Homo sapiens: one gene and its partners. The protein of the gene in region 1 purifies or fractionates together with the protein of each later gene. This does not show direct contact. Each region holds a gene or a part of one and is shown on either strand. Other genes may lie near its edges. The genes, in order: OGDHL, RP2 and CPNE8.

Region 1 (3,649 bases):
GTGCTGGGATTACAGGCATGGAGCCACCGCTTCCGGCCACTGCCTAGCCTCTTTCAAAGTCCTGCCCATCTTCCCTTTCGGTGGCTCTCTGGGTCCCCTGGGCAGTGAGCCTGTCACTCCCTCCTCTGTGTCCCTTTGCCCTCAGGACTATCTCTCCTGCTGTCTCCAGCCTGCTGCCGTGTGTGTGTGTGTGTGTGTGTGTGTGTGTGTGTGTGTGTGTGGACCCATACCTACTGGCTCCTATCCCAGGTCTTTCTGACATCCTGTTCCTTTTGTTCTAGCACCTTCAGCCTTCTAAGCCTCACTTTGCTCTTCCATAAAACAGGGATAAAAGCGCATGCCCGAGAATGGTTGCAATGAGTCAAAGATGACCTGTGTGTATAGTGGAAAACTTGGCCAAAGGATGTTTAAAATGAAATTACTATTTTTTTTCAACTGAAAAAGAAATTTGATCATTGTGAAAACAACAAAACAGAACAAAGCTTATACAATGAGAATATGTTCCTCAGTGAGACTCCATTCTTGTGGCCAATTTTGTTTGTGTGCTTCTGTTGTGTTTAGGTGTGTACTTCTAGAAACATTTCATGCTGATACAAACAAACCTCTTTTTCCAGTGCAACCTTATTTCTAAGAGGCCATGGGCATAGCCGTGACACCGGGTGGCACCTTGCTGTTTTCACTTAACAAGTTGTCATTGTTTCCTGCCTGCACACATGGGCTACCCCAGGCTTCTTACAGCTAAAGCATCCCTTGTGCTGGACATTGGGTTGTTCTCATGAGGGTCCTTGCACATGTGTGAGCGAGTTTATCTGTTAGATGGTGTCCGAGCAGTGCAGCGGCTGGAGCTACGGGGGTGGGACTGAACGACCCTCCCAGGAGCTGGCAGATGTCAGCGAGCCCATCCACAGTGTGTGATGGTGCCAGAGCCCCCACCCCACTTCCTCCTACACGCTCTCGAATCCTTTCATCTTTGCCGATATAATAGGTTCAAAAGAGGATTTTGTTGTAATGCATTTCTTTGTTATGAATTCAGTTGCTTATCTTTTCACATGCTTTTGAGCCATTCATATTTTTCTGTAAATTCCTGCTTGTGGCTTTTGCTCATTTTCCTATGGAGTTTTTGGGCTTTATCTTCCTGATTTGTAAAAGCGTTTTGTACATTGAGGGAATTTGCCCTTTGCCTGCATTTGTTTATGAATATTTTTCTCAGCTTGATTTGTTTCCCCTATCGCTGGGCGTGGGTTTGCTCCCCCATGGCAAATTTGCTAGAATTTAGGTGTCTTTTGTGTTTTCTGGTGTTAGGATATTGTGTAGAATGCTGTAAGTCTTCCTTGCTTCAGGGTCATAAAATGTTGTGTGTTCCTCATTGCTACCATTGGTGTGAGGAGTCAGGGGATTCAGCTTCAGTGTTTGCTGGTGGCCTGGCCGAGGGTCTCTGCGCTGATGCCTAGGCACTGCCCTTCTCTCCCTGCCTTCCCCACCGCTGGATGGCCTTCCCCACTCTTGTGCTCTCCTGCTCCATGGTCAGTGTACAGAGAGGCTCTGAGCCAAGGCCTGGGGTCCCTGCCTTCCTCCCTCAGGCCAGTGAGGAGGGGCAGTGTGATGAGGAGAGAGGGGTCAGAGACAGCTTGGCCCTCTGAGGCAGTGGGATCGGGGGAATGTGCCAGCCTGACTGTGGGCTGCAGTGCCTGCCTGTGTATCTGCCTGTCTGATGTGGGAGGGGAGGATCCATCATGTTCCCATCTCCACCTTCAGGGCTCCGGGGATGTCAAGTACCACCTGGGCATGTACCATGAGAGGATCAACCGCGTCACCAACCGGAACATCACTCTGTCGCTGGTTGCCAACCCCTCCCACCTGGAGGCAGTGGACCCTGTGGTGCAGGGGAAGACAAAGGCAGAGCAGTTCTACCGTGGAGATGCCCAGGGCAAGAAGGTGAGCTCACCTGGGGGAACCCAGAGGACCTGGGCCCTTCAGGGTGGGCCCAGAGGGCTGGGCTGGACCCTGGGTCTCCACAGTACAGGTGCCGGCTGGGCTACATGGGCTGGGGCACGCAGCCCCTCCTGGCTCACACCTGCCCTGCAGGTCATGTCCATCCTGGTTCATGGGGACGCCGCCTTTGCTGGCCAGGGCGTGGTATATGAGACCTTCCACCTGAGCGACCTGCCCTCCTACACGACCAATGGTACCGTGCACGTCGTCGTCAACAACCAGGTGAGCATGTAGGCTCCACGCTGGGCCTCACAGCGTCAGCATCCCTGGAAATCCAGGCAGTAGCTTGCGGGGAAAGTGAGATGCTCCTGGCTCTGAGCCCACTGCTGTGCTGCTTACCAGGCAGGACCCTGCTCTTTCCAGCCTTGGTGTCCTGGTCTGTGAAATTGGAAGACACAATAGGGAGGGATAAGTAGGGCTGGAAGGACCAAAGGAGCACCTGTGTAGCGAGTGCCTCATGGAGGCTGGCCGTGTGCAGCCCCACATGGGCAATCTTAGACACAGGGACCTTGGTGCCCTTTCTCTAAGGCAGCTGAGCTTCTAACAGCTCATATGGAGTCTAGAAAGCCCTGTGTTCACTGCCTTGTTTGCATTAAGTCACGTCATCGTCCTTGAACATCCTGTGAGGTGGGAATTTAAGTGACCCCTTTTTATAGATGAGGAAACAGGCTGTGGGTATGTAAGCACCTTGCCCCAGGTTGCAGTTAGCCGTTGTTAGGACTGGATTTTCCAGGCCTATGTTCCTCACTACCAGTGTGTCAAAGTGACTGGCGAAAAAGAGCAGGCTCCACCCGGCTGGTGCTGCTGCCGTCCCCGTGGGAGCTGTTGCCGTGTCTAATTGTGGGGCTGCTCACCATCACCCTGTTGTGTCCCACATTCCTCCTGGGCACCTCAGTGGACCTTGAGCATCCCCCTGCTCAGTCTCCAAGGCTGGCACCTTCTATCTCACTCTAAGTAAATTGAGAGGCGCAGCAGGTTTCTCCTGCCTCTGCAGATTGGATTCACCACAGACCCCCGAATGGCCCGCTCCTCACCATACCCGACCGACGTGGCCCGGGTGGTCAATGCGCCTATCTTCCATGTGAATGCCGATGACCCAGAGGCTGTGATATATGTGTGCAGTGTGGCAGCCGAATGGAGAAACACTTTCAACAAAGATGTTGTCGTGGACCTGGTGGGTCTGGGGACTGAGGCCAAGGCATGGGTGGGTGGCCCATCCCTGCTGTGCTGAGCCAGCCATGTCATCAGCATCTTCAGCACTCAGGGCTGGGAGTGCTTCTTGGATGAGAGATTTATGCCACCAAGAGCAATCTGTGCAAAGGCCTGGGACGGGACATTCATTCGGTGATAGGTGATAGTGGAGCTCAAAGGGCTCCCAGTGGGTGTGCCCTACCCAGATATTCCCCAATTTTGCAGCAGCTACATTGACCACACAGCGTAGGGAAGGGCCTGAGCCCCTCTGGCTGCTCCTGCAGGTCTGTTACCGCCGGCGTGGCCACAATGAGATGGACGAGCCCATGTTCACCCAGCCGCTCATGTACAAGCAGATCCACAGACAGGTGCCTGTGCTGAAGAAGTACGCAGACAAGCTGATTGCCGAGGGCACAGTCACCCTGCAGGAGTTTGAGGTGGGCAGGCAGGCTGCAGGGGCGCCCAA
Region 2 (3,649 bases), on another chromosome or scaffold:
TCCCGGGGTCAGAGACAGAAGAGCAGCGATGAATCATGCTTAGTGGTATTATTTGCTGGTGATTACACTATTGCAAATGCCAGAAAACTAATTGATGAGGTAAGGAGAAAGAGAAGAGAAATAGTCATACACCTAGATTTAAAAATGTACCACTCTGGAGTACTTCCATTCTTTTCAAATTGGCTATTGGAAATACAGGCAACCCTCAAGTTATAGTCCTTTGCCACCACCCCCTCTCCCAACAGACTCATCTGTAAGTAGATTGCTTGGGCCTCAAAATACTTTCTCAAAGAAACTTTTAAAAAATATAATTCAATTCAGTAAGCATTAAGCATTTGTTTGTAAGTAGATTGCTTGGGCCTCAAAATACTTTCCCAAAGAAACTTTAAAAAAATATAATTCAAATCAGTAAGCATTAAGCACCTATTATGTGCTAGTTACTGTTATCATATTTCACTGATGATAGGATGCCTATTTGTTTTCCATGATTTTGCTTATCTGGAATGCATCTTATAATTGATAGCAACTCAGAAATGATGAACTATAGTGTATGCTGGAGATGAAGATACATAGACAAAATTCTCTGCCCTTAAAGAGTTTCCATTATACTAGATGATTTCCAGAGAAGCTCACAAAAGTAGTACTGCTTAGTAAAGCATGACATTTTATAATTATTTAGTGGGGAAATTTCTTTAGAGTTCTAATTGGTTAGGGGGTAAGAAAATGCAATTTTTTTTTTTTGTGACGGGGTCTTGCTCTGTCACCCAGCCGGAGTGCAGTGGTGCGATCTCGGCTCACCGCAACTTCTGCCTCCTGGGTTCAAGCAATTCTCCTGCCTCAGCCTCCCAAGTAGCTGGAACTATAGGTGGGCGCCACCACACCCAGCTAATTTTTTTTGTATTGTTAGTAGAGACGGGGTTTCACCACGTTGGCCAGGATGGTCTCGATCTTTTGACCTCATGATCCACCTGCCTAAGCCTCCCAAAGTGCTGGGATTACAGGCATGAGCCACTGCACCCAGCCAAAAGTACATTTAGGAATACAACTTTTGGACCCTGTTGTGACTGTGAGAGCAACCTCCACATTACGTTCCTTATTTTCCTTTATTGCCATAGAAGGGAGCTTGATGCAGAAGAGTGAGATGGAAGCTAGGTTGGCAAAGCTCATAGGCTCATGAACAGTGGGTCTTGGTGAGCTCATGAATAGAGAAGGCTTTTTGGGGTAGCAGCTTCTGCTTGAAAAATAATTGGAGATACAGAGGTTAGGGGCTCCAGAAGCAGCAGTTCCTTAGTTGGTGGGTGCTCCAGTGGGAAGGCAGCAGTAGGATGTATTGATTATCCATTAATCAGGTTCCTTCAGGAGGAATCTGTTTGAATTTAAAAACCAAACTTAAAGACATAGAGAAGTGAATGGAAAACTCATCAAGTCTCTTTTTATTTTTTTGAGACGGAGTCTCACTTTGTCTCCCAGGCTGGAGTGCAGTGGCGCGATCTCAGCTCACTGCAACCTCTGCCTCCCGGGTTTAAGCGATTCTCCTGCCTCAGCCTCCCGAGTAGCTGGGATTACAGATGCCTGCCACCATGCCCGCTAATTTTTGTATTTTTAGTAGAGACAGGGTTTTGCCATGTTGGTTAGGCTGGTCTCGAACTCCTGACCTCAAGCAGTCCACCCGCCTCGGCCTCCCAAAGTGCTGGGATTATAGGCGAGAGCCACCACGCTCGGCCGGAAAACTCATCAAGTCTCTTTTTGAATGGATTTTTTTTTTTTAAGTTGGAACATATCAAAAGGAATGATTTTAGGAAAATACTAAAAATGAATACCTCTCAATAGCTATATATTCCACAATGTAGAAAACCCATGTAGAAATGTCTGAAATCCACAAAGTATATCTGAGGTATAGTTTTTAAACCAACAGAAGCCAAAGTTTAATTTTAAGACTTTTATATTTTCTCTTTTGCTTATGCCTATGTGATAAAAACATTCCATGAATCTGGTAAGATACAGAAAAATGTGCTTCTGGCTTTTGAGCTATCTGATCACATGTTAATCCAACATCTGAGAGGTAAATGCTTTCATTATGCAGTATGGTGATTTAAAAAAAAACTACAAACAGTTTTCAAAATATGTAATTATTTAGGTTAAACTCCTTTTTCATAGGTAATGAGGAGTGGACATAAAGAATATTTAGCATGTTTAAAGAAAAAGCCATCAAAACAGTGTTTCTTCATGAATCACCAAATGTTCTTAACCTTTTAACCTTTGGTATCTGGTATGTGAAATGGCAGTGTTGTGTGCCCTTGAAAAGAATATGACCAGGAAGAATGATATTCTTTAGATATCCTCTGGAATACAATATAAACAATCCCACAGCGATAATAATAACTAACACTTACATAGTGTTTACTATATGCCAGGCACTATTGTAAGGAATTTAAATGAATTAACTCAATACTCAAAACAACTCTATGAAATAGGTGCTATTATTCCCCATTTTACAGATATGAAAAATAGACCATAAAGAGGGTAAGTACCTTGCAAAAGGTCATTCAGCTGGAAAAAGCAGAGCCATGATTCCAATCCAGGCAGTCTGGCTGTGTAGGCCACACCTTAACCCTTAAACATGATGCTGTTATGCTCCCTCAGTGGTAAAGGAAAGTTGCTGAATGCCTGGTGGAGCAGGAATGTGACTGAAAGCATGTGGACTCTAGGGCCTTCCAGTCTAGGGACTATTTGGCTATAGTTATCCTATCTTATTCTGAAAGTACAGAATTAAGGAATGAAGAGAACAAACAAAAATAAAAAATAAAATACCAAGTACATGTGAAGAGGGTATCAAAACATGCTGAAAGACAAAAGACTTATATATTATATTGAGAGATTACATTTTTTAAAAAATGAGATGAGTTCGCAGGGAAATATGTATAGAAGCTAGTGAATCTTGAGATGAAAAAAATAAAACTTGAGTCTTTCTCATGTCATAACACAAATGTCTTAGGACAGCTTAGACTGAAACTATGATTGCTAACTCTATATTTGTTAAACCCCAGGAGGATTACAGAATTTTGTTTCACATTGTTTTAATGCATTAAATAATGATTTTTTTTTTTTCGCAATAGGAAGTATACAATTTGAGAGAGGTTAGGAAGTCCAAAAAGGCTGGGTAAAGCAAAAAGACATTCCATAGGGAGCCAAGAGAAGTTACTAGACTTTGGTTTTCTCACCTAAAAATCAGATTCCAGCCGGGCGCAGTGGCTCACGCCTGTAATCCCAGCACTTTGGGAGGCCGAGGCGGGTGGATCACGAGGTCAGGAGTTCAAGACCAGCCTGGCCAAGATGGTGAAACCCCGTCTGTACTAAAAATACAAAAATTAGCCAGGCGTGGTGGTGGGTGCTTGTAATCCCAGCTACTCGGGAGGCTGTGGCAGGGAATTGCCTGAACCCACGAGGCGGAGGTTGCAGTGAGCTGAGATCCCACCACTGCACTCCAGCCTGGGCGAGAGGGCAAGACTCCGTCTCAAAAACAAACAAACAATAAAAATTGTTTTTCTTTCCTCGACTTCTCTTACCTACATCACAGATATGTACAGGATAAAATAGAGTAAAATAGTTTGAGAGTACTTCATCATCTGAAATTGAAGTTGGGTAGTTA
Region 3 (4,087 bases), on another chromosome or scaffold:
GGACACCCGCCCCCTCTCCACCCTCTGCCTTCCAGCTGCGCCGCATCCTGTTCTCCGTCGCCGCCTGGTGGCGAGCTCCCGGGACCCGCAGGCGCTCGGGTGAGGCAGGAGGGAAGGCGCGGGGAACAAAGGTCCCTGCAGTGGAGGGGCGCCTCGTCTACCTCCGGATGCTTTTGCCACGACTCCGTCTTGGCACCAGTCTTGCTGCCCTGGAATGCAGTTTCCCAAACGCAGCGCTCACTCTGACTCCTCTCTGCTTTTATCCGTCAGGTCTCAGTTCTTGCGGGTGGGAGTCGGCTGAAGGAGCTGCGTTATATGGTTGTGACATCACCCTCCCCGGCCCCCATTTTCAGGTCAGAACTTTCATGCCTTTGGAAACGAGGGACCCAGAAGAGCCCTTACTGTAGGAGGAATGTCGCCGTTAGACCTCTAAGCTCCGAAGAACCAAGGGGAGACAGAATCCAGATTGCTTCCTTAAATCCCAAGTAGTATTGTTTTTTCCACCTTAGAGTCCGCCCCCCCGCCCCCACTTGTCCCATATATTGATCGGCCACTTTGCCACCGTGTTCCAAGGTTGGAGAGCGTCACAATGCCCCACCGTCCCCAACTCTCAAGTGGCCGACAGTGGGCAGTCCAGAAGCTGGGACCAGACTCATCTGCCCGAGGGCACAGTAGGAGGGACGGAGGGATCTCCCAAGAGCTCCGAGGGCGAGGTGAGAACCAATTGTGGGGAGGGGGACCTTATAACGGGGCAGTTAGGAACGGGCAGAGGTGCCCCCACCTCCAGCTTTCAACTCAGGCGAGGAAACTTCGAGACCTTCCCGTCCACACCTGATTGACAGAAGGAAGCTGTCGCGGCCCAGGAGGCGAGTGTGGGTGTGCAGAGGTGGAGACAAAACCTAAAAGCACGCAGAGCCGGCGAGGGCTTGCGGTCCTGGACGGTAGGGGTCTGCGTCTGGTGCCACCTTCTCCATCAGGCTGCTTGCTGGGTCCACCAAGCCTGACCCCTCCAGCCAGGAGGGGATCACGGAGTGTGTCCCCCGCCCGGGCTGCTGCCTGCCGGAAGGGGGCTGGGAAACCGGGATCCCCGCGCGCCACTTGCCTGGCAGCGTCAGTTTCACCCAGGACTGGCTAGCGGTTCCCTCGTGGCTCTGCGCGGAGGTCCGCCTCCTCCCTTCCCTCCCCCATCCCGCGCGCTGCCTCCGCCTCCTTCTTCTGCCTCCACCCTCAACCCCCATCCCCGCCTGACGGGAGCTAGCCCTCAGTCCGCCCGAGCTGTGGTTGTGGGCGCCGGACAAGTCCAAGGCGCCTCCTCCCAATATGGACAGCCGCTACAACAGCACTGCGGGCATCGGGGACTTGAACCAGCTGAGCGCTGCCATCCCGGCCACGCGGGTGGAGGTGTCCGTGTCCTGCAGGTGAGGACGCAGCCCTTCCCCTCTCTCCTGCCCTCTCATCTGTGGGGTTGGTAGCACTTGGAGAGCGCTCGGGGTACCACGAGGCTTTGCGCAGGCAAGAAGTTGCGCCATGAGTGGGAAATATCTCAGTAGTGGGGCTGGAGTTACCCCGGGTCAGGTGACACAGGGGAGCGGGAATTAGAAGCGGTGGGCTCCGGGACTGAGACTTTGTATTTTCTTTCTGGGAAACGCTGTAAAAGTTGGCTGGGCTGTGACTCAGCTGTGGGAACACCGGCCGCCGCCCACTTTACAAGCCGGTTTTCCGCCCCAAACCCGGGCTGGATGGTTGGGTGATGACCGGAATCGAAGGGGACAGCACTGCCAAAAGCTCTTGTGACCGCTGCACGCTTAGGCCCGGGACTTCCTCTGCTAGGCGTGTGCAAACCTGCTGTTGCTAGGGTTGGCTCCAACCCCGGCAGCTTCCTCCCCACCCACTTCCTGGAGCCTTCCAGCTTGCTTCTCCCCGACCCTTCCGGGCTTTTTGCCTTTTGCCTGATAGGTAGAGATTTCGGCCCTCCTTGCAGACGAATCTATGCCTTACCTAAGATCTGGGAAGTCACGACTTTTGTTTTGATTTGTTTTCGGGCCCACATCTGAGTGCTTGTAAAAACTGACTCTCGGCCGGGCGCAGTGGCTCAGTACAGTTTATACGCCTGTATTCCCAGCACTTTGGGAGGCCAAGGCGGGTGGATCACGAGGTCAGGAGTTCGAGACCAGCCTGGCCAATATGGTGAAACTCCGTCTCTACTAAAAATGCAAAAATTAGCCGGACGTGGTGGCACGCGCCTGTAGTCCCAGCTACTCGGGAGACTGAGACAGGAGAATCGCTTGAACCCGGGATGTGGATGTTGCAATGAGCTGAGATCTTGCCATTGCACTCCAGCCTGGGCGACAGCGCAAGACTCCATCTCAAAAAAAAAAAAAAAACAAAAAAAAACTGACTTTCAACCCTGTCCAGAGACTGTAAATTGCAAACTCGTTGTCCTGACCTTTCGGTTAGTTGCCCTGTAAATAAAGCAGCATCACCGCTATATCATAGATGATTTTGAGAAGGAGATGAGCGATGGTGCTAAATTGGTACTGGCCACTAATTTGCGAATTAATATTGACCCTGGAGCCCACTCCCTTGTTTGCATAATTGGGTCTGTCTCACTGGAAAACTGGCTCCTCATTTATCCATTTTTGCCCTAAGATTGTTTTTATGCCCTCACATCCTCCCTTTCCTTTCCTTAGCAAACTTGCCTTGAAGATATCTAACAAATTTGGGTGATCTTGATGTAAATAAGTTTAAAATTCCATCAATCTTGACTTTGCATTTTCACAAACTGAGCCTAAAGCCAAAGGAATTCTTTTCTGGGGGTGAAAATTCGAGCACCAGCAACCGTAGTAGAAGTATTATTTGAGGGTAGGGGACAGCCTTTATCTAGCCCTGAAACTATATCACCTGATTGTTTGCCGCCTCTTAAGACTGATCTGGGACTATGGAAATAATCATGCTGATAATGATAGCTATCATTAAGCTCTTGCCTCATTGCTGTCACTGCTTTAAGTGCTGCCTGAGATTTTTCTGTCAATGGAACAGGTGAAGCTGTTTGGAAAACTCTTTAGAGGATTCCTAGGCCTTTTTCTTTTCTCTGAAGCTTGCTTTCGATGTTAGAGGGAAGTTACTGGTATATACAGATAATGGATAGCCGGAAGTCCTACAATAACAGCATTACTAGAGTTCTTATCCTCTGCTCAACAGTCTGCAAAGTCTGAATGGCATGTGGCCTATACTTGGAATGAATATAAAAGAATATTGTCAATCAAGTCTGAATTTTTCCATGAGCTTTTTAAGGGAAATTATACCTAAACTGGTCATTCTGCCAGTAGGGCCCATGTTTAATGCAGCCCCTTTTTTGATGCATGTTTTCTGTGAGTGTGCTGGGCATACTGAAGTCAATTGGCTTAAGGCAATTTGTTTCAGTTTGCTGCCTCAGAACCTGCAAATCCCTTGTTCCAGCTTTTTTTCATAACATTGCTTTGACATTTTGTTTTTAATTTTTAAGATTTCTAACAGGAAAAAAAAATCCTGAAAGAGAACCTGAATACTTAGTGTCAAGCATCTCTGCCAGGGGCACTAGTGCTTAGTCTATTGTTTGAGTTGCTTCTGACTCAGCTTACTATTTACGATAAGTTTGAGGTAAAAAGCATCTTTTGGGCAAAGAGAAACATAATTAAATACCCAAGTTAGTGCCTTTGGAATAGGTTTGGGAATAGTTCCTGAAAAGGTGGGTTAAATTTATTTTTAATACATTAAAATTCAAAGATAAAAATATTTGAGTATTGTTGGATCTTGTAACCATAGGAGGTGGTTTAGTTTGGGCTTTGGCATCAGAGACCTAAGTACAAATTCTGGCTTTGTGACTTGTTCTTGCTACCTTGGAGTAAGTTCTTATTCAGTCTGTCTAAGCATTCTCATCTCCAAAAATAAGAATAGTTATGGTATTTACCTTATATAGAGTGTTATCAAGGTGATGTGTGAAAGCGCTTACACAATGCATGAAACAAAAACATGTTTTCAAAAATGTTAGCTATTATTATAATACTGGAAATAACATTTGTTGAATAAATGTGTTATATATGATTCA

The links.
Region 2: the proteins of OGDHL (region 1) and RP2 purify together in Homo sapiens (affinity purification with mass spectrometry; one large-scale study listed by BioGRID and IntAct). This does not show direct contact.
Region 3: the proteins of OGDHL (region 1) and CPNE8 purify together in Homo sapiens (affinity purification with mass spectrometry; one large-scale study listed by BioGRID and IntAct). This does not show direct contact.

The regions. Positions count from the first base shown.
Region 1 is NC_000010.11:49,745,315-49,748,963, reverse strand, and holds part of OGDHL (2-oxoglutarate dehydrogenase-like, mitochondrial), read left to right. Parts: intron 1-1,755; coding exon 1,756-1,935; intron 1,936-2,085; coding exon 2,086-2,214; intron 2,215-2,986; coding exon 2,987-3,166; intron 3,167-3,467; coding exon 3,468-3,620; intron 3,621-3,649.
Region 2 is NC_000023.11:46,854,043-46,857,691, forward strand, and holds part of RP2 (protein XRP2), read left to right. Parts: coding exon 1-99; intron 100-3,649. UniProt on the Homo sapiens protein: Acts as a GTPase-activating protein (GAP) involved in trafficking between the Golgi and the ciliary membrane.
Region 3 is NC_000012.12:38,902,768-38,906,854, reverse strand, and holds the start of CPNE8 (copine-8), read left to right. Parts: upstream 1-1,263; 5' UTR 1,264-1,320; coding exon 1,321-1,418; intron 1,419-4,087. UniProt on the Homo sapiens protein: Probable calcium-dependent phospholipid-binding protein that may play a role in calcium-mediated intracellular processes.